Regions from separate parts of the Homo sapiens genome. Here regions 2, 3, 4, 5, 6 and 7 are each reported to be linked to region 1. Evidence: microRNA targets listed by miRTarBase, many of them from high-throughput screens and not tested one by one. Region 1 holds a microRNA gene; each other region holds the end of a gene's coding sequence. Distances are between the middles of the regions.
Evidence for each region. Region 1 holds the annotated microRNA hsa-miR-4708-5p (AGAGAUGCCGCCUUGCUCCUU, at 2,043-2,063, opposite strand). A microRNA usually pairs through its seed, bases 2 to 8, with sites in the 3' UTR of a target mRNA and lowers its output. Matches are read on the target gene's strand: a 7mer-m8 pairs with bases 2 to 8, a 7mer-A1 pairs with bases 2 to 7 and ends in A, and an 8mer does both.

Region 2: miRTarBase lists ZNF708 as a target of hsa-miR-4708-5p. Seed matches in the 3' UTR shown: 7mer-A1 at 1,971-1,977.
Region 3: the mRNA of PPIL1 is a reported target of hsa-miR-4708-5p. Seed matches in the 3' UTR shown: 7mer-m8 at 876-882.
Region 4: the mRNA of SLC2A14 is a reported target of hsa-miR-4708-5p. Seed matches in the 3' UTR shown: 7mer-A1 at 1,899-1,905.
Region 5: the mRNA of SHISA6 is a reported target of hsa-miR-4708-5p. Seed matches in the 3' UTR shown: 7mer-m8 at 201-207.
Region 6: the mRNA of COX6B1 is a reported target of hsa-miR-4708-5p. Seed matches in the 3' UTR shown: 7mer-m8 at 3,415-3,421.
Region 7: the mRNA of TMEM30B is a reported target of hsa-miR-4708-5p. Seed matches in the 3' UTR shown: 7mer-m8 at 840-846.

The regions. Positions count from the first base shown.
Region 1 is chr14:65,333,113-65,337,179 of GRCh38, forward strand. It overlaps MIR4708 (microRNA 4708), which reads right to left and starts at 2,071; the gene lies at 2,005-2,071. RefSeq lists enhancers at 3,010-3,109, 3,170-3,319.
Region 2 is chr19:21,289,969-21,294,026 of GRCh38, reverse strand. ZNF708 (zinc finger protein 708) reads left to right here. Exons shown (of 4, transcript NM_021269.3): 4 at 1-2,867. The coding sequence ends at 753. It also overlaps the pseudogene COX16P1 and the pseudogene VN1R83P. Among named protein-coding and RNA genes, the nearest start is that of ZNF708, 37 kb to the left of the region's middle.
Region 3 is chr6:36,852,124-36,856,186 of GRCh38, reverse strand. PPIL1 (peptidylprolyl isomerase like 1) reads left to right here. Exons shown (of 4, transcript NM_016059.5): 4 at 154-1,358. The coding sequence ends at 374. Among named protein-coding and RNA genes, the nearest start is that of CPNE5, 15 kb to the right of the region's middle.
Region 4 is chr12:7,810,640-7,814,706 of GRCh38, reverse strand. SLC2A14 (solute carrier family 2 member 14) reads left to right here. Exons shown (of 11, transcript NM_001286234.2): 11 at 173-2,193. The coding sequence ends at 391. Among named protein-coding and RNA genes, the nearest start is that of NANOG, 23 kb to the right of the region's middle.
Region 5 is chr17:11,557,550-11,561,616 of GRCh38, reverse strand. SHISA6 (shisa family member 6) reads right to left here. Exons shown (of 6, transcript NM_207386.4): 6 at 1-3,863. The coding sequence ends at 3,313. Among named protein-coding and RNA genes, the nearest start is that of DNAH9, 39 kb to the left of the region's middle.
Region 6 is chr19:35,658,009-35,662,075 of GRCh38, reverse strand. COX6B1 (cytochrome c oxidase subunit 6B1) reads right to left here. Exons shown (of 4, transcript NM_001863.5): 4 at 3,294-3,482. The coding sequence ends at 3,429. Among named protein-coding and RNA genes, the nearest start is that of UPK1A, 6.5 kb to the left of the region's middle.
Region 7 is chr14:61,276,806-61,280,872 of GRCh38, reverse strand. TMEM30B (transmembrane protein 30B) reads left to right here. Exons shown (of 1, transcript NM_001017970.3): 1 at 1-3,503. The coding sequence ends at 781. It also overlaps a transcript of PRKCH not described here. Among named protein-coding and RNA genes, the nearest start is that of TMEM30B, 2.5 kb to the left of the region's middle. RefSeq lists an enhancer at 110-1,073.

The DNA.
Region 1 (4,067 bases):
ATACTTCACATAGCTCAGACTGATCTGAGCTATTTTTCTTTCTCAGCGGAGTCTCCGTAGTCTCCGTAATTCAGAGGCACACCAAAATTTGAAAGCCAGCTCTACCACTGACTAATTGTGTGATTTTGGACAAATTAGTTCATCTCCTAGTATCTCAGTTTCCTCATTTGCTAAATGGGGAAAATAACAGCTCCAACATCATTGAGCTGTTGTGGAAATTAAATTAATTTAAAATGAAAGCACTTGGAAGAGTACTTGGCACATAATAAATGCTCAATAAGTGTTAAAGATTGCTACTTTTCCTGTCCCTTAGCAACTAAAAAATATCTTTTAAGGAGCGCCATTTCCTGGACATACTACAAAAAAGGGGAATTGCCTGCATTTACATAGATTTTTTGATAGTTGATGTCTCTGAGAGCAATATTCTTTTAGCCCCTTCTCTAAATCCAGGTTTATGCCTAATTTAGATCCCACGGTCTCCTGTGGTCCTAACCACCTTGTGAACATGTTATGAAGGTAAATTGAAGTTAATCTAGGGATGGAATGATGAGAGCAGGTAAAAGATAAATAGTTCAATGGTTCTCAACCTTGGCTATACCTTATAATTATCTGGAGAGCTTTAAACAATGCCCAAGTCAGCTGGGCATGGTTGCTCACGCCTATAATCCCAGCTCTTTGGGAGGCTGAGTCAGGAGGACTGCTTGAGGCCAGGAGTTTGAGACCAGCTAGGCAACATGGTAAGACCCCCTCTCTATTATATATTAAAAATAATTTTTAAAAAATGCCTAAGTCACACCCCAGACCAATTAATATCAGAATCTGTGGGAACAGGGCTCAGCTATCAGTCTATTTTAATCTCCAGATGATTCCAGTGTGTAGCCACTGGCCTCATCTTAGCTCGGCTGAGCTGGTGAGACCCAGTAATCTGTATTCTAACAAGCCTTCTGCAAATCTCAGGACCTTTGGTGTGAACCATCCCATCATCCTCCCAATGTCCAGGCCTCTGATTTCACTTCTCTGCCCAGTGGGTGTGACTTGAAAGCAAGAGAGGAGGTGCAACAACCCTTAGTTTCTGTAAGAAGGTACAAGGAGACCAGTTCTGTATATCAAATCCTGGTTTATTCTAGCCAGACCTGTCTTAGGGACAATGATGGTCTTTCAGCCTAAATGCTTGCTTCTCAGGAAGCAGGTGAGCCAATGAAGGGCCCCACTCTCTCCAAGTGGAGACTATAGCATTTGCCTAAAATACCCCTTCTCTCCAGTCCTAACTGTCCTGGAAGCTTCTCAGAGGCCAAATATGTAAACAAGTTCCAAACCAACACATCTGCTTTTCATTTCCTGCGGAATGCTAAAACGAGTCTTTTAAGGTTGCTTAAAATATGTTCTCTCCTCCCGCCCCACCCCCCAGGGCATTTGCTGTGCGTCCTCAGACCACCTCAGCTCCTCCTTCCCTACACCTGGGACTCTTCTGCGCAGACTTGGCTTCAAACAAGGCTCACGGTTCTTCCTGGCATTTGCTTTTTTGGCTTAGCGAGTGCACATTCAATATCTTTTTCTTCTTTTTCTTGAAAGCACTGTCTTCAGTCTCCTCACTTGTCCCTTTCTCCTCTGGCAAGCGTAATGCTATCAACATTTGAAAGTGGCCTGATTCCCTGGTGTCTGGTAAATGGCCTTGCTGGTGAACTTCTTTAGGAGAACTGCAAAGAAACTAGAGCAGGGGCTAAAGAGAGCTGCTCTCTTGGGGCTCAGATGCCCCTCCTGGGGCCCCACCTCACACTAGGTGGGTTTCCTTCCTAAATTTGAGCAACGACTCTGTGTGACCTTAGCCACCCTTAACTTTGCTCTGCTTCTGTTTAGCATCTGTTAAGGAGTGACCTTTGCCACCAATTAATGAGGGTGAGGCCCCATTCAGTTGCAAAGAACGTGGAATTGTAAACAAACTTGCAAGTGGAAAGACTAGTTCCAGGGGAAATGTAGGTAAGAAAGGTGCTCCCGTATTCTCCTTTTAGTATCAGAGAGATGCCGCCTTGCTCCTCCTGTTCAAGGAGCAAGGCGGCATCTCTCTCCTAAATATGCTGTTGTGTCTCATACCTCAGCTTCTCAGGGCCCTGCCAAGAGCGGGTAGGTAACATAACAACAGCTGTTACTGCCCCAATGTATCCTCCCTCCAAATGTCAACAACATACACTTTGGAGTGGCCTCTTTATGTTAAGGCCTTGAGCTTTAAGACTCAGCTCTGGCCTTTAAGAATCGTATGTTCCCGTTGAAGAGACAGGATGTGTGTAAAGATAGCAGCTAGAGACCATGCCCAACAGATAACAAACATTAAGGGAATACATAAGTATTGAACAAATATATATGGAGCACTAATTATGTTTTGTTGTAAGCTCTGAGGCTAAAGTGTTATAGGACTTTCTCCTTAGTTCAACTAAAAGCCGGATTCTTGTCACACAGCCATGAGAGATTAGGCTTGCAGACACTTTGAAGGGTGAGAAGAATGGAACTTATTGGGCAAAAAGGAAAATAAATGGAAACAGGGACTCTCAGCAAAGTGAGAGTCCTGCTTGCTGGTTTTTCCTGCCTCACTGATTGAATCCCATGTACTACCCTGGATCAGGAGAGGCCAGGCTCCTTCCTGCTGCAAAGGGTGTGAACTTCTGCAGCTCCACCCTGTTCTCCCAGTGCGCAGGCCAGTCGGAGTTTCTCAGGGGACCCCTTTACACTTGGCTGTCTCAAAAAACAGGGAGCAAAACAGATAAAACCCCTGGCTTTATGGATCTTATGTTCCTTATATATATATATGTATAAGGAACACACGTATATATGTGTATATATGTATATATATATTTTTAGGTTCTGGAATAAATGTGCACAACATGCAGCTTTGTTACATAGGTATATACATGCCATGGTGGTTTGCTGCACCCATCAACCCGTCATCTACATTAGGTATTTCTCCTAATGCTATCCCTCCCCTATTCCCCCACCCCCTAGATCTTATGTTCTAATGAGACAAGACATACTTTGAGAGGCCAAGATGAGTGTCAGCAAATAAATATGTATAATACACCAGCTTCTGGGAAGTACTTTGAAGGAAAATGAAGCAGATTAAGGAGGGTAGAGTGACATGGTTAAGAGAATGTGGTTTTTTAGATGGGAGATCAGAGAAGACCTCTCTGGTAAGGAGACATTTGAGTCAAAATCTGAAGAAGGAGGGAGTGAGTCATCTGAGTCTGTGAAGAATTTTCTAAGCAAGGCGAGCAGCAAGCACGAAGGCTCTCAGGAAGGAGTGTGCTTGGTGAGTTCTAAGAACAAGCAGGCCAGTGTAGCTGGAAAGTAGTGAGCAGGAGACTGTGGGCAGGAGAGGACATGAGAGAGGTGACAGAGTGGATCACTGAGGACCCTGCAAGTGGTGGTAAGGACTTTAGATTTTGTTTTGAAGCCATTGGAGGGCTTTGAGTAGAGCAGTGACATGATTGGACTCACACCTTGGAAGGATCACTCTGAGCATGGACTCCAAGAGTGCACAAGGAGAAGTGTGAGGCCAGTGAGAAGGGTGCTGCAATAATCCGGGATGAGATGAAGATGATGGTGGCTTGGACCAGAGAGAAGAGACTAAGGGTGGTGAGATGAGATTAGATTCTGATATATAATGAAGGTAGAGTAGACAAGATAGATGAGATATAGGGTTATGATTTATGACATAAAGAGAGAAATCAGGAATGATTCCAGTGTTTTTGGCCGATACTCAAGGTTTTAAATTTATAGCAGGGATGGGCTGCTTCTGGTTAAGATAATAAGGGAAAGATTAATGAAAGACCCAAGATTTGAGCTGCACTTTGAAAAACTAGTAGGATTTTGTGACTTATAAAAAGTCTCAAGGGCTTATTTTGAGACCATTTTATCTCCTGGAGTGCAGCCTCCTACCCTAGTTCCACTTCTTTCAGTTATATCAACCAGGAGCTCTGGGATGCGGGACTCAGCCAGCCCAAGGAAGGTGAATCTGGATTCTTTAGGCCAATCATGAAAATTTTCTACTCTTGCCAGTAACTGGTTTAGAAATGGGC
Region 2 (4,058 bases), not on the chromosome of region 1:
GGCAAAGCCTTTACCCTATCTTCACACCTTACTACACATAAGAGGATTCATACTGGTGAGAAACCCTACAAATGTGAAGAATGTGGCAAAGCTTTTAGTGTATTTTCAACCCTTACTAAACATAAGATAATTCATACTGAAGAGAAACCCTACAAATGTGAAGAATGTGGCAAAGCTTTTAACCGGTCCTCACACCTTACTAATCATAAGGTAATTCATACTGGAGAGAAACCCTACAAATGTGAAGAATGTGGTAAAGCCTTTACCAAGTCCTCAACTCTTACTTATCATAAGGTAATTCATACTGGAAAGAAACCCTACAAATGTGAAGAATGTGGTAAAGCCTTTAGTATATTCTCAATCCTTACTAAACATAAAGTAATTCATACTGAAGACAAACCCTACAAATGTGAAGAATGTGGCAAAACTTTTAACTACTCCTCAAATTTTACTAATCATAAAAAAATTCATACTGGAGAGAAACCCTATAAGTGTGAAGAATGTGGCAAAAGCTTTATTCTGTCCTCTCATCTTACTACACATAAGATAATTCATACTGGAGAGAAACCCTACAAATGTAAAGAATGTGGCAAAGCTTTTAACCAGTCCTCAACCCTTATGAAACATAAGATAATTCATACTGGAGAGAAACCCTACAAATGTGAAGAATGTGGCAAAGCCTTTAACCAGTCCCCAAACCTTACTAAACATAAGAGAATTCATACCAAAGAGAAACCCTACAAATGTAAATAATGTGTCAAATCCTTTAGTGTATTTTCAACTTTTATTAAAACACAAGATAATTCATACTGGAGAGAAATCCTACAAATGTGATAAATGTGGCAAAGCCTTTAACTGGCTCTTAATCCTTATGAAACAAAAGATAATTCATACTAGAGAGAAACCCTACAAATGTAAAGAATGTGGCAAAGCATTTAACTGGTCCCTAAATCTTACTAAACATAAAAAAACTTAAACTGGAGAGAAACTACAAAGCTGGAAGACATCACAGTAATTCTGACAACACCTCAAACTTTTCTAAACATAAAATAAATCATACTGGTGAGGAACTTTAAAAATGCGAAAAATGTGACAAAATCTTTAAATGATTGTCACACTTGATTGTAGGTAAGATAATTCTTACTAGAAAAACTCTTACAAGTGTGAAGAATGTGGCAAAATTTTTAATGAATACTCACACCTTATTGCCAGGAAAGCATTTATACTTGAGAAAAATTGTACCAATATAAAGACTGTGAAAAAGCCATTAATGTCTGCTCACATCTTACTCAACATCAGAGAGTACTTAAAAAAAGTATTATAAATTTAATTACTGTCAAAAAGTATTTCAGAAAATATAAGCTTTTAAAGTATTTATTTTGAAGACAAACATTACAAATAAAAGAGGATTGTAATACCTTTATTTGTATCACAGATCTTATTGTACACATTTTGTACTAGAGAAAACCCTGAAGCAGTTACTTAAACTTTGTTCAACATCAGGGAATTCAGATTGGAGAAAAACCCTGCAAATGTAATAAATTTGAAAAAAAAGTTTTCCAAAACTACAACTTAGACAACACCAGAGGGTTCATACTGAGATATATTTTTGCAGATGCAGTATATATTTAAAACATTTAATCCAAAATAAGTCTATGTAAATATCAGAGAATTCACAGTGGAAATATCTAAGGTAGGGCCGGGCATGGTGGCTCACGCCTGTAATGCCAGCACTTTGGGAGGCTGAGGTGGGCAGATCATGAGGTCAACAGATTGAGACCATCCTGGTCAACATGGTAAAACCCTGTCTCTACTAAAAATACAAAAATTAGCTGGGCGTGGCGGCACGTGCCTGTAGTCTCAGCTACTTGGGACGCTGAGGCAGGAAAATCCGTTGAACCCAGGAGGCAGAGGTTGTAGTGAGCCGAGATTGCACCACTGCACTCCAGCCGGGTGACAGAGTGAGACTCCATCTCAAAAACAAACAAACTAAGGTATGGATGCTTCAGACATTACACTATATCAAAGTGCTGACTGTTAAAAATGATCCCAAACTAACGGTAGATAAATTTATTTGTACATAACTTTAAAAGGAGTAGAAGATTTTTTGGAAGTTTGTAATTACATTCAAAGTATACTTTTTTTGTTTGTTTGTTTTCCTTGAGACAGAGTCTCTCTCTGTCGTCCAGGCTGGAGTGCAGTGGCACAATCTCAGCTCGCTGCAACCTCTGCCTCCTGGGTTCAAGCAATTCTCCTGCCTCAGCCTACTGAGTAGCTGAGATTACAGGTGCACACCACCACGTCCGGCTGACTTTTGTATTTTTAGTAGGGACGGGGTTTCACCATATTGGTCAGGGTAGTCTTGAACTCCTGACCTCATGCTCTGCCCAGCTTGGCTTCCCAAAGTGCTGTGATTACAGGCTTAAGCCACAGCGCCCGGCCCAAAGTGTTCTTTTTTCCTTGAAAAGAAGTACAGATTTTTTAAAAAGCTAATATTGCTGTGATTCAACTCTCTAGTTACTTGATGCTATTTCTTCATTTCTATTGTATTCACATGTGAAAGCATGTGATCAGTTGTCACGGCATCAAAGATAGGAGAGTTTCTTTTTTTTTAGGTGGGCATTATTTATGACCTTTTCTTTGGAAGAGTAAGGACATTAAAATGTAACATGCATGATGAAAATCTAAGTGGAGATGGTATTTGTGGTTAATTATGATATTGAGTGGTGCATGAGGTAGGTGTTTAGAGTAATATTCTTTTGCATTATAGTAAGAACATTTAAGTTTTGTTAAAATTAAAAAATTAGTACGTTATTTTACTATTTGTACTTTTATGTAATAAAATGCAGTACATTTTTAAATTTTCAGATGATGTGTGAACTTGTTTCATTATACATTTTTAACATGTTAATACTATTGTGCATTCAATGAAGCATTATTATGCCACTAACTGAAACCTATCCCATTTACTCAAAGGTGTAGGTAAATGATAGTAAGAATATACTATTTGGTAATGTAATCAACTAACATCTCTGGTAATCTCCTTTGCCAGTGGCTTTCAACTGCAAATAAGTTTAAAAAATACTGTTTCCGTAGGTTAAATTTTTATTATTTTTTCTTGTTGAAATCTGTTTAATTTTTTTTTTTTTTTTTGAGACAGTGTCTCGCTGTGTCCCCCAGGCTGGAGTGCAGTGGCACGATCTCGGCTCACTGCAAGCTCCGCCTCCCACATTCACGCCATTCTCCTTCCTCAGTGTCCTGAGTAGCTGGGACTACAGGCGCCCGCCAACACGCCCAGCTAATTTTTTGTATTTTTAGTAGAGACGGGGTTTCACCGTGTTAGCCAGGAGGGGCTCGATCTCCTGACCTCATGATCCGCCCATCTCGGCCTTCCAAAGTGCTGGGATTACAGGCGTGAGCCACTGCGCCTGGCCTAGATTTTTATACAACGTGTAGCAAATACAAAATTTGCTAGAGAATATATTTTAGAAATCAAAATTTTAGGAGTTCTAATGGTAAGTAAAGAATTTTAAATTTACTTTTCTGTAATGTAGTGTAACTTAATTTCTATGCAGAATCTTCTACTTTAAGAGTGAATGTTAAACATGGCAAAATAATAAAGTGACCTCTGTGAATTTGAAATTTGAGATAATATTTCTTTTCCATACTGATATTACAATTTGAAGAAATTTCCAGTTCATATAACTTTTTTTCAGTGGGTGAAGTTCAGTCTACAGTTTTTTTTTGTTTTTGAGAAAGAGTTTTGCTCTGTTGCCCAGGCTGGAGTGCAGTGGCCCAACCTCGGCTCACTGCAACCTCCGCCTCCCAGGTTCAAGTGATTCTCCTGCCTCAGCCTTCCAGGTAGCTAGGATTACAGGCATGCGCCACCACACCCAGCTAATTTTTGTATTTTTAGTAGAGACCAGGGTTTCCCCATATTGGGCAGGCTGGTCTCGAACTGCTGACCTCATGATCCACCTGCCTCAGCTTCCCAAAATGCTGATAACAGGCGTGAGCCCCCGCACCTGGCCCAATCTACAGTTTTTATTCTGAGTCAT
Region 3 (4,063 bases), not on the chromosome of region 1:
AGGGCAGAGAGACTGCCCTGAGGGGTTGTCTGGGTCTGGACAGAGGCCAGAACAAAGTCCTGGCTGCTTTTTCATCCCTAGGATGGGGCAGCAGCTCTACACTGGACCTGTGGGGTTATTTATACTCTTTCCTTTCTTCCTTTTTCCCACCAGGGGCTGGAATTCTCGCAATGGCCAATGCGGGGCCAGATACCAATGGCAGCCAGTTCTTTGTGACCCTCGCCCCCACCCAGTGGCTTGACGGCAAACACACCATTTTTGGCCGAGTGTGTCAGGGCATAGGAATGGTGAATCGCGTGGGAATGGTAGAAACAAACTCCCAGGACCGCCCTGTGGACGACGTGAAGATCATTAAGGCATACCCTTCTGGGTAGACTTGCTACCCTCTTGAGCAGCTCTTCTGAGATGGCCCCAGTGAACCAGCTTCTAGATGACATAGAATGACATGTAATGCTAAATTCATTTTGGCTTTGCAAGTCATGAAGCTTAGGAGGCCTGGCATCTTGGGTGAGTTAGAGATGGAAGTACATTTTAATAGGATGCTTCTTTTCTCTTCCCCCAGTGCCTAGGTTGCCAGAGCATTTGCACAAATGCCCCTGTTTATCAATAGGTGACTACTTACTACACATGAACCATAATGCTGCTTCTTGTGCATGTCTGCTCTGATATACGTCGAACAATGTAGCAGCCACTGTCATTTCTCAGTGGTTTTGCCTAACCAAACTTCTTCCTAAGGAGATTTATATTCTGGCCTACACAGCAGTCCTTGATGGCTGACAGCCACAGAATTCCAAACCAAGTAGTGTCTGTCAGCCCTCTTAACTCTGTGCACGCCCTATTTCAGTCTTTTACATTTGTTCTTCTAGGGAATGTATGCATCTCTATATATATTTTCCCTCTCAAAACCAGAACATCAACAGTGCTGTTTCTGACACTTCAGACATCCCACGCAAAGCCACATTGAATTTTTGCCAAATGAAAAACACATCCAACAATCAAGTTTCTAAGAAGGTGTCAAGTGGGGAATAATAATAATGTATAATAATCAAGAAATTAGTTTATTAAAAGGAAGCAGAAGCATTGACCATTTTTTCCCAGAGAAGAGGAGAAATCTGTAGTGAGCAAAGGACAGACCATGAATCCTCCTTGAGAAGTAGTACTCTCAGAAAGGAGAAGCGCCACTCAAGTTCTTTTAACCCAAGACTTTAGAGAAATTAGGTCCAAGATTTTTATATGTTCAGTTGTTTATGTATAAAAATAACTTTCTGGATTTTGTGGGGAGGAGCAGGAGAGGAAGGAAGTTAATACCTATGTAATACATAGAAACTTCCACAATAAAATGCCATTGATGGTTGAAATTGCTGCTGTGGTCTGATTCTAAATATTGTATGAGGTTCCAATGGTCATTTTAATCCCAGTCATCTTAAGTAGTAGTACAGAGATTGAATGTTCAAGATTTCACATCATTTTAGGCTTGTGGATCTCCAGTAGACTTCTCCCTCTTTAAGAGCAATTCTAACTTTAAAAGGGCAGAACCAGAGAAAGAATTAAGTGACAGAAATTGACATTTCTGAATAAGAGGTGTATTCATCTGTTTTCACATTGCTATAAAGACACTACCTGAGACTAGGTAATTTATAAACAAGAGAGGTTTAATTGACTCACAGTTCCACATGGCTAGGGAGACCTCAGGAAACTTACAATAATGGTGGAAGGCAAAGGAGAAGCAAGCACCTTCTTTACAAGGTGGCAGGAGAGAGAGCGAGCACGGGGGAAACCACCATATTTAAACCATCAGATCTCATGAGATCTCCCTCACTATCGTGAGAACAGCATGCAGGGGGAAAATGCCCCATGATCAGTCACCTCCCACCAGATCCCTCCCTCGACACAGAGGATTACAATTCGAGATGAGATTTGGGTGGGGACACAGAGCCAAACCATGTTGGGGGGATTACCTGTAAGTGAACCAGGTGTATGTGCTAAGAGACCTGCACCATCCCTGGAATTTGCAGAGAGCCCACCTGCACATTATTATGGGACCAGAGGCAGTATATGTTGTGGTGTTTGGTTCCTTAAGCTGGTAGCTCCTTGAAGAGGGGATTATAACTTTAATGTTTCTTACTACTCTATCAATTTTGGAAATGGTGATTTACTTTATGGAATGGCCAAACAAGGTTCTGTTCCCCAAGCCTTCCCTACCTTCAACCTCTTTCTCTACCTTTCTCTTTTCTCTCAATAGCAAAAAAGCAAAACCCAACAACAAACCATATAAATGACTTTGTAACTTCCCAGAGATGGTTTTTGTATGCAAAGTAGTGTTCTACACTCTGGAAAAAATAGAAATGTATTTCTTTCAGCCTGAACTGGGTGGACATAATTGGATCTGCCTCTGAGAGCAAGGAATAGCACCTGTTCACTAACCTCCCAGAATCGTAATCCTGAAAATCTCCACTTTCATCCAAGGCACAGGCGTGGTGGAAACGTATCATGGCTACTCTGAAGCAAAGAAGGTTCTGCATGCCTTGGGAGGAGAGCCACACAGGCACAGTTCCTTGTTTTTGGAAAGGGACACCAAATCCATGCTAAGGCAGTCACGTGGGCACATACCAGTTTTCATAGAGGATATGACCTCAGAGAGTGAAGCTTGAATTGTTTCACAATTTGTGGTTCTGCCAGTTAGCCAGAGTTGTAGAAGTTCCCGTTTCCTTATAAGGGAAGCTCATCTAAAAGGAATCCTGCTTAATTCTTTGGTCATATGAGTGTCTACATCCTGTCAGGATTAGTACCATTGAGACAGGTCTCATAAAAGTGGGGTGTACTAGAGATAGTTCATTTTTGTTACATCTCATCACGGTGAGGGTGGTGAGCTTTCTCCTGGCTTATCAGGAGAAAACAAGGATAAGTTTAAAACTTGGATGGGGATTATTGAAGATAGGTGTGGAGGACCATGGGGGGCTCATCAAGGCACAGGAGAGAGACAGCTCTCTGCTGCTTCTCGTGGGGGAAGGGAAAGAGATTCTAGACATTTGGAGAAGGCTTAAAGTTGGAAGTAGATACACCAGTGGAAAAGGCTTTCAAACAGGTGCCCCTGGGATGATGGATAAGAGAAGCTTGGCACACAGACTATAAAGAATATGGCCCAAGGGCCCTAGCCCAGGGCTTCTCACATGACTACATGCAGGAATCACTGAGGGAGCCTGTTAGGAAGCAGCTTCTGACTCAGCACTCAGCCAGAGAGTCTGCAGTTCTCGCCAGCTCCCAGGAGATGGTGACTGCCGGTCCAGACACCACCCTTTGAGTAGTGAGGTCCTAGAGGTCACATTTGTCCAACATGAAACTGGGGAGGGGGGGTTTCCCTAAGAGCAAGGGCAGTCAGGACCATGAACCAATCTTATGCCTCCTGGAGCAGAGCTCTCCACCTCATCCTGGTGGTCTTGGAAGAGTGAAGAGATTCAAAGCACACGATGAGCTTTAACATAAGCTGCTGGCTTTGGCTACTGGGATTGAGCTTTATGAAAGTGTTCTGTTCCCACAGCAGTACAACATGGACTTCAGACCCTGGTATGTGGCACTGAGATACCTTGTGTGGACACCAGGGTGGGTGAGATTGGGTGATCAGTAGACATCACAGAAAATGCAGGGAAAAGAGCATCAACAAAGATGACATTGGGGGAAAGAGCTCTGGAACCTGACTGTCGGGGTTCAGATCCCAGCTCCACCACTTAGCAGCAGCATGAACTTAAGTTTCTTAATTTCTCTGTGCTTTAGTTTCTTCCACTATAAAATGAGAATAATGGGCCAAACTTCAAGGGCTATTGTGAAGATTAAATGAGCTAGAACAGGTATTTAGAACAGGAACTGGCATTTAGAAAACACCCCCAAAATGCTAGTTGTTGTTACTACCAGTGGCCCTTGAAGCCACCACACACCTGTCCTACCTCTTCATCTCGACATATACACAGCCTGACCTGTCTCAGCCTCTCACCTCACAGCTTCTCCCTCCCACTGGGCTAACCTCTGAGAACAAGGACCTTGTCTTACTCCCCTCTGTAAGTCTTCC
Region 4 (4,067 bases), not on the chromosome of region 1:
TAGTAAGTTAGCAATAGAATCATAAGTAAATCTCTGAAGAAACCTTTATGTTTTCATTAAATATGGAAGGGTTATAGCTTGAAGCCTATTGGAAATATGAATGTGAAGGAAATTGTATTTGTCAATGACCAGATTTTTATATCAACCTTCCTTTTTTCTGTCCTTTCACTAGTACTATTTAGGAGCCTACGTTTTTATTATCTTCACCGGCTTCCTCATTACCTTCTTGGCCTTTACCTTCTTCAAAGTCCCTGAGACCCGTGGCAGGACTTTTGAGGATATCACACGGGCCTTTGAAGGGCAGGCACACGGTGCAGATAGATCTGGGAAGGACGGCGTCATGGGGATGAACAGCATCGAGCCTGCTAAGGAGACCACCACCAATGTCTAAGTCATGCCTCCTTCCACCTCCCTCCCGGCATGGGAAAGCCACCTCTCCCTCAACAAGGGAGAGACTTTATCAGGATGAACCCAGGACTGCTTCTGAATGCTGCTACTTGATTTCTTTCTCATCCCACGCACTCCATGAGCACCCCAAGGCTGCAGTTTGTTGGATCTTCAATGGCTTTTTAAATTTTATTTCCTGGACATCCTCTTCTGCTTAGGAGAGACCGAGTGAACCTACCTTCATTTCAGGAGGGATTGGCCGCTTGGCACATGACAACTTTGCCAGCTTTTCCTCCCTTGGGTTCTGATATTGCCGCACTAGAGGATATAGGAGAGGAAAAGTAAGGTGCAGTTGCCCCAACCTCAGACTTACCAGGAAGCAGATACATATGAGTGTGGAAGCCGGAGGGTGTTTATGTAAGAGCACCTTCCTCACTTCCATACAGCTCTACGCGGCAAATTAACTTGAGTTTTATTTATCTTATCCTCTGGTTTAATTACATAAATATTTATTTTTTAAGTGTAATTTTGCCAAATAATAAAAACAGAAGGAAATTGAGATTAGAGGGAGGTGTTTAAAGAGAGGTTATAGAGTAAAAGATTTGATGCTGGAGAGGTTAAGGTGCAATAAGAATTCAGGGAGAAATGTTGTTCATTATTGGAGGGTAAATGATGTGGTGCCTGAGGTCTGTACATTACCTCTTAACAATTTCTGTCCTTCAGATGGAAACTCTTTGATTTCTCAGAAAAGTTGTATGCCTATTTAATAAAGCTACTCATTTCCTTTGGAACTTTATCTTTAAGATAATAGTTTACATGTAGTAGTACTTGAAATCTAGGATTATTAACTAATATGGGCATTGTAGTTAATGGCGGTTGATGGGTTCTAATTTTGGATGGAGTCCAGGGAAGAGAAAGTGATTTCTAGAAAGCCTGTTCCCCTCACTGGACGAAATAACTCCTTGTAGTAGTCTCATTACTTTTGAAGTAATCCCGCCACCTATCTAGTGGGAGAGCCATCCAAATGAGAAACCTAAAATAATTGGTTCTTGGTAGAGATTCATTATTTCTCCACTTTGTTCTTTAGGAGATTTTAGGTGTTGATTTTCTGTTTTATTTTAACTCATACCTTTAAAGGAATTCCCCAAAGAATGTTTACAGCAAACTTGGAATTTGTAACCTCAGCTCTGGGAGAGGATTTTTTTCTGAGCGATTATTATCTAAAGTGTGTTGTTGCTTTAGGCTCACGGCACGCTTGCGTATGTCTGTTACCATGTCACTGTGGTCCTATGCCGAATGCCCTCAGGGGACTTGAATCTTTCCAATAAACCAGGTTTAGACAGTATGAGTCAATGTGCAGTGCAGCCCACACTTGAGAGGATGAATGTATGTGCACTGTCACTTTGCTCTGGGTGGAAGTATGTTATTGTTGACTTATTTTCTCTGTGTTTGTTCCTACAGCCCCTTTTTCATATGTTGCTCAGTCTCCCTTTCCCTTCTTGGTGCTTACACATCTCAGACCCTTTAGCCAAACCCTTGCCAGTGACAGTATTTTGGTTCTCAGTTCTCACTGTTCCCTCTGCTCCTGGAGCCTTTGAATAAAAATGCACGTAGCTATGGAGTGGGGTTTAGCTGGAAAGGTGGCCTTCCAACTTCACGTCAACTTCTGGCTCCTCAGTTTGGCAGTAAGGCAGGGAAGTTGTTTTCCTATTTCTCACTGAGAAGATTGTGAATATTTCCATATGGATTTTCCATTATTGTTTGTTTGATTCTTTGTTTTAAAATAAAAATTCTGAATGTACATGACATCACAAGCACATTATTTATTTATTTTTTGCCGTTCCTGTAACAACAAAATCAGCTTTAAATCCTGAGTTGGCTACTCAGTACCTGTTGTGACCTTGAGACTTGTATGAGACTCTGTTCTTAGAGTCTCATACATAAGAGAATAGCAATATTTGGCCGGGCCCGGTGGCTCATGTCTGTAATCCCAGCACTTTGGGAGGCAAAGGAGGGCGGATCACCTGAGATCGGGAGTTTGGGACCACCTGGCCAATATGGTGAAACCCTGTCTGTACTAAAAATACAAAAATTAGCCTGGCGTGGTGGCAGGTGCCTATAATCCCAGCTACTTGGGAGGCTGAGGCAGGAGAATCGCTTGAACCCAGGAGGCAGAGGTTGCAGTGAGCCAAGATTGCGCCATTGCACTCCAGCCTGGGGGACGAGAGTGAGACTTTGTCTCAAAAAAAAAAAGAGAATAGCAATATGTGTTTATTATGCAGATTAAGTGAAAAAGCCTTCGTGCCTTGCTTTTCATACTTGATGAATTATGTTGCTTTCTTTCCCCAGTGAGAACTAGTTTTTTTTTTTTTCTGTTTTTCTCGTGTTCCTTTCCACTTCCTTCCTCCTCCAGTCTTTGCTCTCTACAATTCATCCCACACTGCTGTCAGGGCATCCATGTGACATACAGCAGTCCCTTGCCATCCCCAGGGGACTGGTTCCCAGACCCCTTCTTAGATAACAAAATTCAGGGATACTCAAGTCCCTTATATAAAATGCATATAGTCTGGGTGCAGTGGCTTATGCCTGTAATCCCAGAACTTTGCGAGGCCAAGACGGGCAGATCACGAGGTCAAGAGATCCAGACCATCTTGGCCAACATGGTGAAACCCCATCTCTACTAAAAATACAAAACTTAGCTGGGTGTGGTGGCATGCACCTGTAGTCCCAGTTACTCAGGAGGCTGAGGCAGGAGAATCCTTTGAACCTGGGAGGCGGAGTTTGCAGTGAGCTGAGATCACGCCACTGCACTCCAGCCTGGTGACAGAGCAAGACTTGGTCTCAAAAAAAAATGCATATAATTATTATTGTGATGATTTAAATGCAAATAATCTATGCACATCATCTCATGCACTTTAAATCATCTCTAGATTACTTTTAATACCTAATACAATGTAAATAATTGTTAAACTGTATTGTTTTTTATAGTTGTATTGTCTTTTTTCCCAAATATTTTCCATCTGTAGTTCTTTGCATCTGCAGATACAGAAGTCGGACTGTATATCACTATCCTACTTAAAATCCTTCGGCCGGGCGCAGTGGCTCACACCTGTAATCCCAGCAATTTGGGAGGCTGAGGCGGGCGGATCACAAGGTCAGGAGATCGAGACCATCCTGGCTAACACGGTGAAACCCCGTCTCTACTAAAAATACAAAAAAAAAATTAGTGGGGCATGCGGCGGGCGCCTGTAGTCCCAGCTACTCAGGAGGCTGAGGCAGGAGAATGGAGTGAACCCGGGAGGCGGAGCTTGCAGTGAGCCGAGATCGTGCCACTGCACTCCAGCCTGGGCGACAGAGGGAGAGTCCATCTCAAAAAACAAAAGAAAACAAGCCGGGCATGGTGGCACATGCCTGTAGTCCCAGCTACTTGGGAGGTTGAGGTGGGAGAATCACCTGAGTCCAGGCGATTGAGTCTGCAATGAGCCAAGATCGCACCACTGCACTCCAGCCTGAGTGACAGAGTCCCTATCTCAAAAAACAAAAAAAGTATATTATACTAAAATTTGTCTTCCCAAGGATTATAATTGTTTTTTATCGGAGGAGGGGAACAGGATATCACTGTATTGCCCGGGCTATTCTCCTGGGCTCAAGCAACTGTCCGGCTTCAGCCTCCTGACTAG
Region 5 (4,067 bases), not on the chromosome of region 1:
TGGAAAGAGGGGAGGAGAAATTTGAATTGGGGGCAAGGTTGGAACTTTCTAAGAGGCAGTCGTGTGGCCCAAGACACTCCCAAGACACTGGGGGAGCCCTGAGGGCAGAAGCCTGGTTAGGAGGTGAAGTAATTCTTGGCAAAGCCTTTTTGACACAGGAAGGCATGGAGCCAGGAGCCTGGAGCAAGACAGGGAAGGTGGAGATGCAGGAGGGATTGTGAAAGCTTCAATGCCATCAGAGGCCAAGGAAACCAGGCAGAACTTTCAGGGCAGGAGAGAACCTGTGCAGATTCCAGTTCATTTCTGTTAGAGCAACAGAGATGTGCAAAAATGAATAAAACAAGGAGAGGGAAATCTTGGGCTTTAGGCTTCCTTTGTGAGCAGGAGGGAGGCTTTTACTGTAAGGGTGGATGGTACTTCTATGTATGGTAGAGGCCACCAGCCTGGTTGGGCTAGAAATCATGGCATCTAGGTTCCAGCCCCAGAAGCCTCTTTTATCTGCTACGTGAACTTGCCTATTGATGTGGCTTTGCTTGTTCCATGAAGATGGATGGGACAGCTGAATAAATGGGATACCTCTCTGTCCCAGCTATGACATAGTTTTCTGGATTTTGAAATGTGGGACTGAATTGGAGCAAGTCTGTAGACCTATCTCTACTTCTTTTTTCTTCCCTCCTCCCCTCCCTCCCTCCCTCTCTCCCTCCCTTCATTCCTTGCTTCTAGACCCAAAGGTGAAGCAGAAGAAATCCTTGAAAAGAAGTAAGCATTGCAGTAGAATTTTCCAACCCAACTGACATCAGAGCCTTTCAGCCAGACAGTGGTAAGGCTGGGATGAGAAATGTCTTGGAATCAACTCATCAACAACCCCTGAGAGAGACAGAAACCCTGTCAGAGACAGGGCTTGGGGAGGACCCCTGGGGAAAAGTGTCACCCTGGGGGCTGGAGAACTTGGTGCTGAGAAGCTTTGACACTGGAGATGGGATCAGCTTTCTGGTTTGGTGTATACCTGCATGTAGACACCTGGGAAGGGCATTCTCAGCCACTCAGGTCCTTTCCCCTCACCACCAGCATCCTGCCTTCCAAGGGATGGCCACAGATTAGACGATTCAAAGGTGCTGGGCTCAGGGGCCCAGCTGGGAGCCACCTGCTCTATTCAGACTCACTTCTTCCTTTCCAACCCTCTTAGCCTCACCTTCTGGAACAAACTCTTATAAACCCCTGGGGACCAGCCCTTAAGAAGGTTTATGTGTCTGTTGGGAGGAAAGCAGAGAGGGTAGTCCCTGGCCTTCCAGCCGCACGACTCCAGGAATGCATCCCCAGTGTGGGGTCTGACAGTGGCTTTCACAACCCCCAGCCTCCATCCCCCTAAGATCCAGGGTGATGGTTTCCTGTTCCTGTTGGGAGGCACACCCTGCAGAGGGGAGAAGGAGATGAGAGCTTTGGAACTCTTGAAATCAGTGAAAGGACACAGTCCATTGCTTTCTCTGTGGTTTGTGGACTTGGTTAGATTAAAAATCTCCAGGGCTGACACCAATAAATTCTCCTTCTACACTCGCCTTTTTAAAGGGCCATGAGTGCAGAACTGAGGGCAGGTAAAACCCCATTTATAAGGGCACTGCTGTTGGATCTGACTGTTTTTAGGATCACACCTTCACCCAATAGCCTGGAGTTGATTCCCCCAGCCCCAACCCAGCGGGTGCCCTGGCCCTGAGAATGAGGGAACCCCTTCTTTCCCCCACCAGGCTCTCTGGTCTTGGGGGAGCGGATGCTGCTGAATTCACTGTCACCTCCCCAGGAGGCCGTCACACCATGCCAACCCCCAGGCTGGAGGCGGGGAAGAGGCTGAGGTGGGCGGGCAGTGGCGGTCCCCCAACAGAGCTGAGGACCATGGTCTACCAGGTACCCCAGTGCCTGCACAAAGGGATGATGCTGTGGGGACCTGCCCAGTTAGCCCCTAGGCCAGTCGCCTGGAGGACCTTTGTTTGCTTTTGCTAATAGGTCTTTGTCCCTTTGATCCAGAGGAGGCACGGATCTGAAGGATCAGCTAGGAGGAATAAAGTTGCAGGGAGGATGTGGGGGAAGGGGACACAGGCAGTAGGAGTGATCTCTGAACTGAGCAGGTAGACAGAGATGGGGAAGGAAGGATGAGCGGAGAGGATGCAGGACAACCACCTCTCATCCTCCTTGTCTGGGGGCTGAAAAGCTGCTCTCTAGAAACTTCTGTCTAGGTCCTGCCGGAGGTGCATGTGGGAACAGGTGGAGCCCTGCAGGATGCGAATGTTGAGCCCGAGACCCCGCACATCACAGTGGCCCTCCCCACCCTGGCTCTCTGGCCACCGCAGGTGCCTCCTGGGAGCAGAGCAGGGGTGGAGAAGGCAGCCTGAGTGGCAGTCATGGTCAGGTCTAGAGGCCTGGAGGGAGTGCGGAGATGATCGGGTGTCTGGGAGGGCCAGCACCCCATTGCTACTCCCCTCTGCGAAGGCTACAGCCAAAACCCCAGAAAACTCAAGGGTGAAATCCTCAGGGCCAGGGAAGGAGCACAGCCCGCTGAAAGGACAGGCCCAGGGTCCTTATGGGCGGGCAGTCAGCTGGAAGGGGGTGGAGTTCCCACCAATGGGGAGGCAGCTGAAGGAAGGGAACCCCTCCTGGTCCTGGAGTTGAGGGGAGGGGCACAGGGCCAGGGTTGGGCCCTCAGGGGTCAGCAAAGGAAGGGTCACTCAGTGGGGACCAGAGAGTTCCAGCAGGCAAGAAAAGAATCATTATTGTGCTTATGGACACAGCAGCTCCCTGGCTCTGAGAGAGCGAGCAGGCAGTTTTTAGGCACTAGGAGATTTCTGTGATGCGGTTCTAGATGAATGAATGAGACCGAGTAGCCTATCCGGTCAGCCCACTGATTGGACCCGCTGGCCCCTTCAAACCCAGGCAGCTTCAGACCACAGTCAAGCAAGGGTCTCTCTGCTGACAGAACCTGCAGCTGAGTCCCCCGGATGGGGAGAAGGAGGCGCGGGACGGAAAGGGAGTTGGTGAAGGTGGTCGGGGGTGAGAATGGGGCCTAGCCCCCTCCTCACTCCCCACTGATTCTTCTGGAGGAGCAAGAGCGATTGCTCTTGGTCCTGGGTCTAAGTGTATTGGACCAGGCCATCGGGGCTGTGTCCCCGGGGGTATGGCTTTTTGGGCAAAGGTGGCCCACCCCCACTTCCTACAGAGGGGACAAGGGAAGGGAGAGTGGCAAGGCTAGAAGCTCTGCTCCTGGCCCCTCCCGGCCCCCGCTCTGCTCTGCCACGCCCAGCAGCCCCGGCCCTGCCCCGCCGGTCACACGGTCACTTCGGTCTTGCTGGCTGTGTAGCAGGTGTGGTGGCCCGGGATGTAGTGCAGCTGCTCCACCGTGTTGTGTCTGCGTGAGGCAAAGGCATGACGCTTGGCTGCCGTCTGGCTCTGGCCCAGGGTGGCGTATGAGTTATTGGAGGCACTGGGATGAGAGTGCATCTTGCTCATGCGGTAGCGGTCCAGCACGGGTGTGGACACAAAGACGTCCGTGTGCGAGATGGCCCTGGACAGCGACTGCTCGGGAAAGGCCGTCCGCTCCGGGGACAGCAGCGGGTCCTGGGAGTGCAGGCGCTCCGTGGAGAGCAGCTGCTCGTCGGACAGGATGCGGTCGTAGGGCATGCTGAACTCATCTGGCAGGCCCCGATCCGGGGACAGGACCCTGTCCTGGGACATGGCCCGGATGGGCCGGCGGGGTCGTTCCCTTGGCAACGGCTTCTGTTGGGACATCTGGATGACATTGAGGGGGAGGGTGCCGCGGGCAGCCAGGTCGGGCAGGTGCCGCCGTCTCATGTAATACTCGTCAGCCTCCTTGTCGGCTGCAGGGGAGAGACAGAGTGAGAGAAGGCAACTGGGGTGACCCTGCAGCCAGGACTCAGATAGAACCCTGCCCCGCTCCTGCTCCATCACAGACCTGTCAACCTTAAGGGATAATACAGTCAAACTCCTTTAGTTATGGATTAGGACAGACGGGTGAAGGGTGTATTTTCCCATTGAATGTGCAAACCATTCTCTGGGGGCTT
Region 6 (4,067 bases), not on the chromosome of region 1:
AGAAACAAGGCCAGGTGTGGTGGCTCACACCTGTAATCCCAGCACTTTGGGAAGCCGAGCTGGGTGGATCACAAAGTCAGGAGATGGAGACCATCCTGGCCAACATGGTGAAACCCCGTCTCTACTAAAAATACAAAAATTAGCTGGGCGTGGTGGCGCGTGCCTGTAATCCCAGCTACTTGGGAGGCTGAGGCAGAAGAATCGCTTGAACCAGGGAGTCTGAGGTTGCAGTGAGCTGAGATTGCGCCACTGCACTCCAGCCTGGTGACAGAGAGACTCCATCTCCAAAAACTAAAAAAATAAATAAAAATTGAAAAAAGAGAAAGAAACAAAAGGAGTGAAGGGGCACAAAGATGGAGGAGCTGAAGGTGAAGGCTGAGTGGTCAGAGAAGGCCTCGCTAAATGAAGACCTGAAGGCAGTGAGGGGTGAGCTTGTGGACAGCTGGTGGCCAAACATTCCAGGTCGAGCAAACAGCAAGTGTAAAGGATCCGGGGTTGGAGCCAGCCTGGTGTGTCGAAATACATTTGCTCACAGTTCCTGTGCACTGAAGAGGCCAGTGTGGCAGGGGCTGTGTGAGCAAAAGGGCACCATATCCAATCAGATCAATATATTTACAAATACTTCTAGATGCATGAGCTATCTCTAAAGGAATGTACAGGAAACACTGGCACTGGTGGCAAACCCTGGGCAGAATCAGGCAGCTGGACTCAAGGAGTCCAGCACCTTGACTTTTCACTGGCCGTCCTGTTTCATTTGAAATTTTCATGGTGTTGGCTGGGTGTGGTGGCTCATGCCTGTAATCCCAGCACTTTGGGAGGCCGAGGTGGATGGTTAACCTGAGGTCACGGAGTTCAAGACCAGCCTGGTCAACACGGTGAAACTACTCTCTAAATCGCTACTAAAAATACAAAAAATTAGCTGGGTGTGGTGGCAAGCGCCTGTAATCCCAGCGTTTTGGAAGGCTGAGGCAGAATTGCTTGAACCGGGAGGTGGAGGTTGCAGTGAGCAGAGATCACATCACTGCACTCCAGTCTGGACAACAGAGCAAGACTCCATTTCAAAAAAAAAATTTTTTTTTCATGGTGTTTAAGTTCTTTGCTACTTCCAACCCACGCCATAACCTCCCACGATCCCTCAAGCTCCCTGTGTGTGCACTAAGGTCCTGTTTACAGCCACTTTTTTTTTTTTTGAGACGGAGTTTCGCTCTTGTTGCCTAGGCTGGAGTACAATGGCACAATCTCGGGTCACAGCAACCTCCACCTCCTGGGTTCAAGCAATTCTCCTGCCTCAGCATCCAGAGTAGCTGGGATTACAGGCATGCACCACCACGCCTGGCTCATTTTGTATTTTTAGTAGAGACGGGGTTTCTCCATGTTGGTCAGGCTGGTCTGGAACTCCCGACCTCAGGTTATCTGCCTGCCTCGGTCTCCCAAAGTGCTGGCATTACAGGCGTGAGCCACCGCGCCCGGCCCCTACAGCCACTTTTCTTCATGAGCAGCTATTTCACAAGATCTATCTCTGGGGCCATTTTTCTCCATACAAGAATCATCCCTGCTCATGTGAATGCATCAGACAAGTTTGTAACCATTTGAAGTTTTGTTTTTGTTTTTTGGGGATGGAGTCTCGCTCTGTCGCCCAGGCTGGAGTACAGTGGTGTGATCTCAGCTCACTGCAACCTCCACCTCCCAGGTTCAAGTGATTCTCCTGCCTCAGCCTCCCCAGTAGCTGGGATTAGGGGCACGCACCACCACACCTGGCTAATTTTTGTATTTTTATAGTTTTTTTTGTATTTTTAGAAGAGATGGGGTTTTACCAGCTTGGCCAGGCTGGTCTTGAATCCCTGACCTCGTGACCCACTCGCCTGGGCCTCCCAAAGTGCTAGGGTTACAGGTGTGAGCCACCACACCCCGGCCATTTGAAAGGTTTTGAGGACACACCAATTCAGCCATAAGAGTGTTCCGGCTGGTCATGCTAGCTAGGTCCCTGTTGACGAGTCTGTTGGGGATATTCTGGGCTGTTATTGTGTGGCAATTCTTTTGGGGGCACCATGAAGAACAGCTCTCAACTTGGCCTACTTAAATGACTTCCAACTACCATCATGATCAGCATGAAAGAGCAGGTCCCAACACGGGGAGAAGTTACACATTGTGCAGGAGATTGCTTATTAGATATTAAGAACTCTTTTTTTTTTTTTTTTTTTTTTTTGGTGAGATGGAGATTTACTCTTGTTGCCCAGGCTGGAGTGCAATGGCATGATCTCGGCTCACCACATCCTCTGCCTCCCAGGTTCACGCGATTCTCCTGCCTCAGACTCCCGAGTAGCTGGGATTACAGGCATGTGCTACCATGCCTGGCTAATTCTGTACTTTTAGTAGGGACGAGGTTTCGCCATGTTGCCCAGGCTGATCTTGAACTCCTGACCTCAGGTGATCTGCCCACCTCAGCCTCCCAGAGTGCTGGGATTACAGGCATGAGCCACTGTGCCCGGCCATTAAGAACTAATTTCTTAGGTGTAAATAATTATGTTAAAAAAATAGGTATCTCCAGGCAGGAGAATAGTTTGAACCCAGAAGGCAGAGGTTGCAGAGAGCTGAGATGACACCACTGCACTCCAGCCTGGGCAACAGATTGAGACTCTGTCTCAAAAAAAAAAAAAAAAAAATTGTATCTCCAAGAGATACATATAGTTTCTTATTTCTGGATAAAATATAATCTTTATGTATTTTATATTATATTATAATCTATATAATTTGCTTTAAAATTATGTAGGGTGGTTGCACACATAGGAACTTAGGTTATTCTGTATAATCAACTATTTGACTCATTGACTGGCACAGAGAGGGTGGCCAAGGTTCAATAAAATTAAGTTAAAAAACGCTAGGCATGGTGGCTCATGCCTGTAATCCCAGCACTTTGGGAGGCCGAGGCAGGTGGATCATCTGAGGTCAGGAGTTTGAGACCAGCCTGGCCGACATGGTAAAACCCCATCTCTACTAAAAATACAAAAATTAGCCAGGTGTGGTGGGGTGTGCCTGTAGTCCCAGCTAGTCGGGAGGCTGAGGCAGGAGAATCGCTTGAACACTGGAGGTGGAGGTTGCAGTGAGCAGAGATCGTGCCATTGCACTCCAGCCTGCGTGAAGAACGAGACTCCATCATAAAAAAAAAAAAAATTAAATTAAATTAAATAAATAAAAACAAAACAGAGAAAATACTCATTCAAGCCCCTCCCTGGTCAGGGCACTGATTCCAGCCCAGCTTCTTGCCACTGCCTGGCCCGTTCACACGCATAGTCTCACTTTTCCAATGAGTTTTTATTAGCAGGTAAGTCATGATTTAGGATCCTGGGGTGGGGATCACTGGGTACCAGGTCCCCCTTCACCATCCTGGGAGAAGGATGGAGGACAGAGGAAAGGGAGATGCAGCCAGTTCAGATCTTCCCGGGAAACGTGCCTTCAGCCCGTTGCTCATCCCAGTCTGTGACCTGTGGAAAGACAGTGTTATTCCCTCCGCAGTGGGGAAACTGAACGGATGGACTTCTTATCTTCCTCACTTTGCCCACCTGTTTGTTCAACCAATATCCACAGGTACCTGCTGTGTGCCAACCTCTATTCTAGAGGCCGGGGAATCAGCAGTGACCCCAAAAGACAGAAATCACTGTTCTGAACAAGCTGACATGCTGGGAGGAGAGTAATGGGCAGGAAAACCCCAGGCCCACTGCAGAGCTGTCGATGGGGAGATGTGTCACTGTACAGAGCTCCAAGGGTGGGCCCTGCTTTGAAAACCTCAAGTCAACACTATGCTGTTTGTCCAAACAGGGGAGATGGAATAGCAGGCAGCTGTGAAAAAAAACGAGGCTGATTTATGTTCTGGCATGAATGGATGGATCTTCAAGATACATAGTCAAGTGCAAAAAAGGTGCCAAACAATACACAGTGCAATCCCACCACTGACCACAGGCGATGCTCAGTATAAACAATGATGGAGGCTGGGTGTGGTGACTCGCACCTGTCATCCCAGCACTTTGCGGGGCCGATGTGGGAGGACTGCTTGAGCTCAGGAGTTTGAG
Region 7 (4,067 bases), 4.1 Mb from region 1:
CTCGTGCGCCTGGTACTTCTCGCTGCCCGAGCTCTTCCAGGGCCCAGTGTACCTCTACTACGAGCTGACCAACTTCTACCAGAACAACCGGCGCTACGGCGTGTCCCGCGACGACGCGCAGCTGAGCGGACTCCCCAGCGCGCTGCGCCACCCTGTCAACGAGTGCGCCCCCTACCAGCGCAGCGCGGCCGGCCTGCCCATCGCGCCCTGCGGCGCCATCGCCAACAGCCTCTTCAACGACTCCTTCTCGCTTTGGCACCAGCGCCAGCCCGGCGGGCCCTACGTCGAGGTGCCGCTCGACCGCTCCGGCATCGCCTGGTGGACCGACTACCACGTCAAGTTCCGCAACCCGCCGCTGGTCAACGGCAGCCTGGCGTTGGCCTTCCAGGGCACGGCGCCCCCGCCCAACTGGCGCCGGCCAGTCTACGAGCTCAGCCCCGACCCCAACAACACCGGCTTCATCAATCAGGACTTCGTGGTGTGGATGCGCACGGCGGCGCTGCCCACGTTCCGCAAACTGTACGCGCGCATCCGCCAGGGCAACTACTCGGCCGGGCTGCCGCGGGGCGCCTACCGCGTCAACATCACCTACAACTACCCGGTGCGCGCGTTCGGCGGCCACAAGCTCCTCATCTTCAGCAGCATCTCGTGGATGGGTGGCAAGAACCCCTTCCTGGGCATCGCCTACCTGGTCGTCGGCTCCCTCTGCATCCTCACCGGCTTTGTCATGCTGGTCGTCTACATTCGCTACCAGGACCAGGACGACGACGACGAGGAGTGATTCCGGCTTTCCAGGGATCCCTCCTGCTTCTTGCCAAAACTCTTGCAAGGTGCTTTTGGCATCTCCTCCTCGCCCGTCACCCAATTCCAACCTCGCCTAGCTTTTCCTCCCTTTGTGAATGAGGGGACCAGATAAGGGAATTACCCCCCTTGCTCTTGGGGGGCTGCTAGACTGTCTTGCCGCGGGGAGGGATGTTGACTGCAGAGTGAAACATCCTTGCAAACTCTTCCCACCTCCTTCACGACACTGAGTTGCCATGTGAGGTTCTTCAAGTCTGAGAGTGGAAGGGATCCCTATGGAGACTCCTATTAAACCCCTATTAGAGGAAGAGATTGAGAGACCTAGCAATGTGAAGTAACAAAGATCAGGCAGCTGCAAGTGACTCCTGAATCTTGAGTCCAGGGCTTTCGCCACTACAGTACAGTGGTTTTCTTTTCTTTGGTCGGGGAGAGTGGGCTGGAATGGAGAGTGAGGCCCACAAATTACCTGCAGAGACGTGGAGGCGTGAGGGAGAACATGCTTGTTAAATATGCAGGTAGATTAGGAGACACCAAACAGAGATTCAGACACAGTAAGGCTGGGATGAGATCCTCGAAGCTGTGTTTTAACAAACTCCACTGGAGAGTCCCATATTCCCTCAAATTTGGGAATCACGACCCTGAACCAGGTTGGGCCTGAAGCAGTCAACTGAATTCACTTTTTCGGATAGTAATTTGTTCCCAGGGGCAGTGACAACCATGATGTTCCAGGTTTGGTCTGGCACTCTGCCTTGAACGTAGGAAGCTCTTGATGATTTGTGGAATGAATTTTTAAAAAATTACTATCTGGGGAAAACTAGTTGGCATACAGAGTTGTAGGACAGGGTTTATGTGATTCATTTGATATTTTAGTATTTTGGTGTAAAAGCCAACAGGCAAACTTTGCCAGGTACTGTGTAGAAACTCGAAAATGTGAGGCCAGTTTGTACAGTTCAGAGGAAATGCTTTAACGTAGAATCAGATAGCTGGAAGAGATCTTCGAGGGAAAGTAAGTTCCCTAAAGTCACATCTATGTCTCCTAGCTCAGTGTTCTTTGTCATTGTGTGTGTGTGTGTGTGTGTGTGTGTGTGTGTGTGTGATTAGAAAGGGCTTCATTCATACCTTTTCCCTTGGACCTGGAAAAAAAATTTTTTTTATCTTTTCAAATGAAATCTATTGATTTCTAGTAATCATATTTGAATCAATGTTAAAGCATATATAGTCTTATATGTAAACTAGATTCTTAAGATTATTTGAACCTTTGAGATGAAGTTTACACTCAACTAAAATCATTCCATTGATTTTATTGATTAACATCAATCAGTATGTTTAAAGTTATTCTAAGAAGCAATAGTTTATTTTTAAAAACCTTGTATAGCAAAATAACTTAAAACCCTTTGTGATATCATCTTACCAGTTTATTTGGTAAAAACAAACAGTTATTTGGTATTTGTCAGAATTCTTCAGTGCCTGCTATTACAGCTATTTTCCAATTACTAACTTGATTATACTCACTCAAGGCAGTGCAAGATCTTGAAGTACTTTTTAGCAGTTAAGTAATATTGAATTGTATTGAATAGTTTACATAGTTTATTCTAGTCTTTGAAAATTACTGAACATGGACAATGTGCATGTCATTGACATCTGCCTTAGAACTTCTGGGACAATCCTGATTCGAGAGATTCTATCCCATTATTTACATATACCAAAAATACTTTGTTAATTTAATGTGTTGGCTTCCCAACTCCTGAACACGACACAATTTTATTATTAGATTTTGTATGGTGATTTTAGGCTATGAAAACATGATCATTATATGTATATAGATACATTTTTATTTGTTACAAATGTTTGAGCAGCTCACTAGCCCACCCCTCCTCTATTTTGGGTAAGAGAATTTACTACCTTTTTTAACTATGTAGTTGAGAGCAACATGTATTTTGTTATTTTTAGAATGGTCAGTATATTGCTATAAAATTTTAAATGAGACTATGAAAGTTAAAGTATTCTGATTCTGGTTAAATTAACGAATATGGTTCCAGGCCCTGTTCTCTGGGTTTTTGAGAGAGAATAAAGGTTATGTTTGTCTTACCTTTGTTATCGAGTTTGCTGAATTCTTTTGAACGATGATCTTAAAGGCACAAACACCACCAGCCACTTTGCTAATTTCTTAATAGCAGATTTACATTGCAGCAAGAAAACCATCTTTTATAGTAACATTCAGTTAAAATGAACTCAATTCATTGTTAACTTCCTAAAACAGAATTTGAACTTTATCAACCTCAACGTGTATATAAACTAGATAGTCCTCAATACTTTATCAACCTCAACATGTATATAAACTAGATAGTCCTCAAATACTGTTTGAATTTAATAAATGTCAATTTAAAAATTTTTGTAGTAGTCTTCTGCATTTTACTTCAATTATAAATTGCAATTATTTATTGGATATTTTGGACTTCAAAGCAGCAGAAACTTTAAAACTGAAATGGGAAACGTTTTCCTGCAATGATCCCTGTGCTGTAACATTTTGTCTGGTGTCTCAGGCTTCCAGGTTCTTGTTGGCCTGAATTCCCTTGTTGCCCAGTAAATGTTCACTAGCTAGAAGTATCTTCAGGAAGTGAGATAGAAAAGAGTGAACCTCAACAATTGGACTGGAAATGAGCTTTGACCTAACTTTGTAAAATAAAAGCATAAAAGAGAAAGTAAAGTAGTTGGTGAGAGCTCCTAAAACAATAATATGTCACTGTATTTTCTCAGATGGTTAAAAAAAATTAAAACAATAATATGACAAAGATTTTCCAGGTATCTCCACAATCAAATCAACTAACCAATTTGCTCACTATAAAATTATTGTTATTATTATTTTTTTTGAGACAGAGTCTCACTGTGTTGCCCAGGCCGGAGTGCTGTGATGTGAACTTGGCTCACTGCAACCTCGGCTCACTGCAACCTCCGCTTCCTGGGTTCAAGAGATTCTCGTGTCTCAGCCTCCCAAGTAGCTGAGATTACAGGTGCACACCACCACGCCCAGCTAATTTTTATATACTTTTAGTAGAGATGGGGTTTCACCAAGTTGGTCAGGCTGGTCTTGACCTTCTGACCTCAAATGATCTGCCCGCCTTGGCCTCCCAAAGTGCTGGGATTACAGGTGTGAGCCACCAAACCCGGCCTATGTAATTATTAAGATTCAGAGACAGACTAATAGTCTGGAATTTCCTTTAGAGCAAATATCACTTCATAATATATAATCAAAACCCTTTCTACCT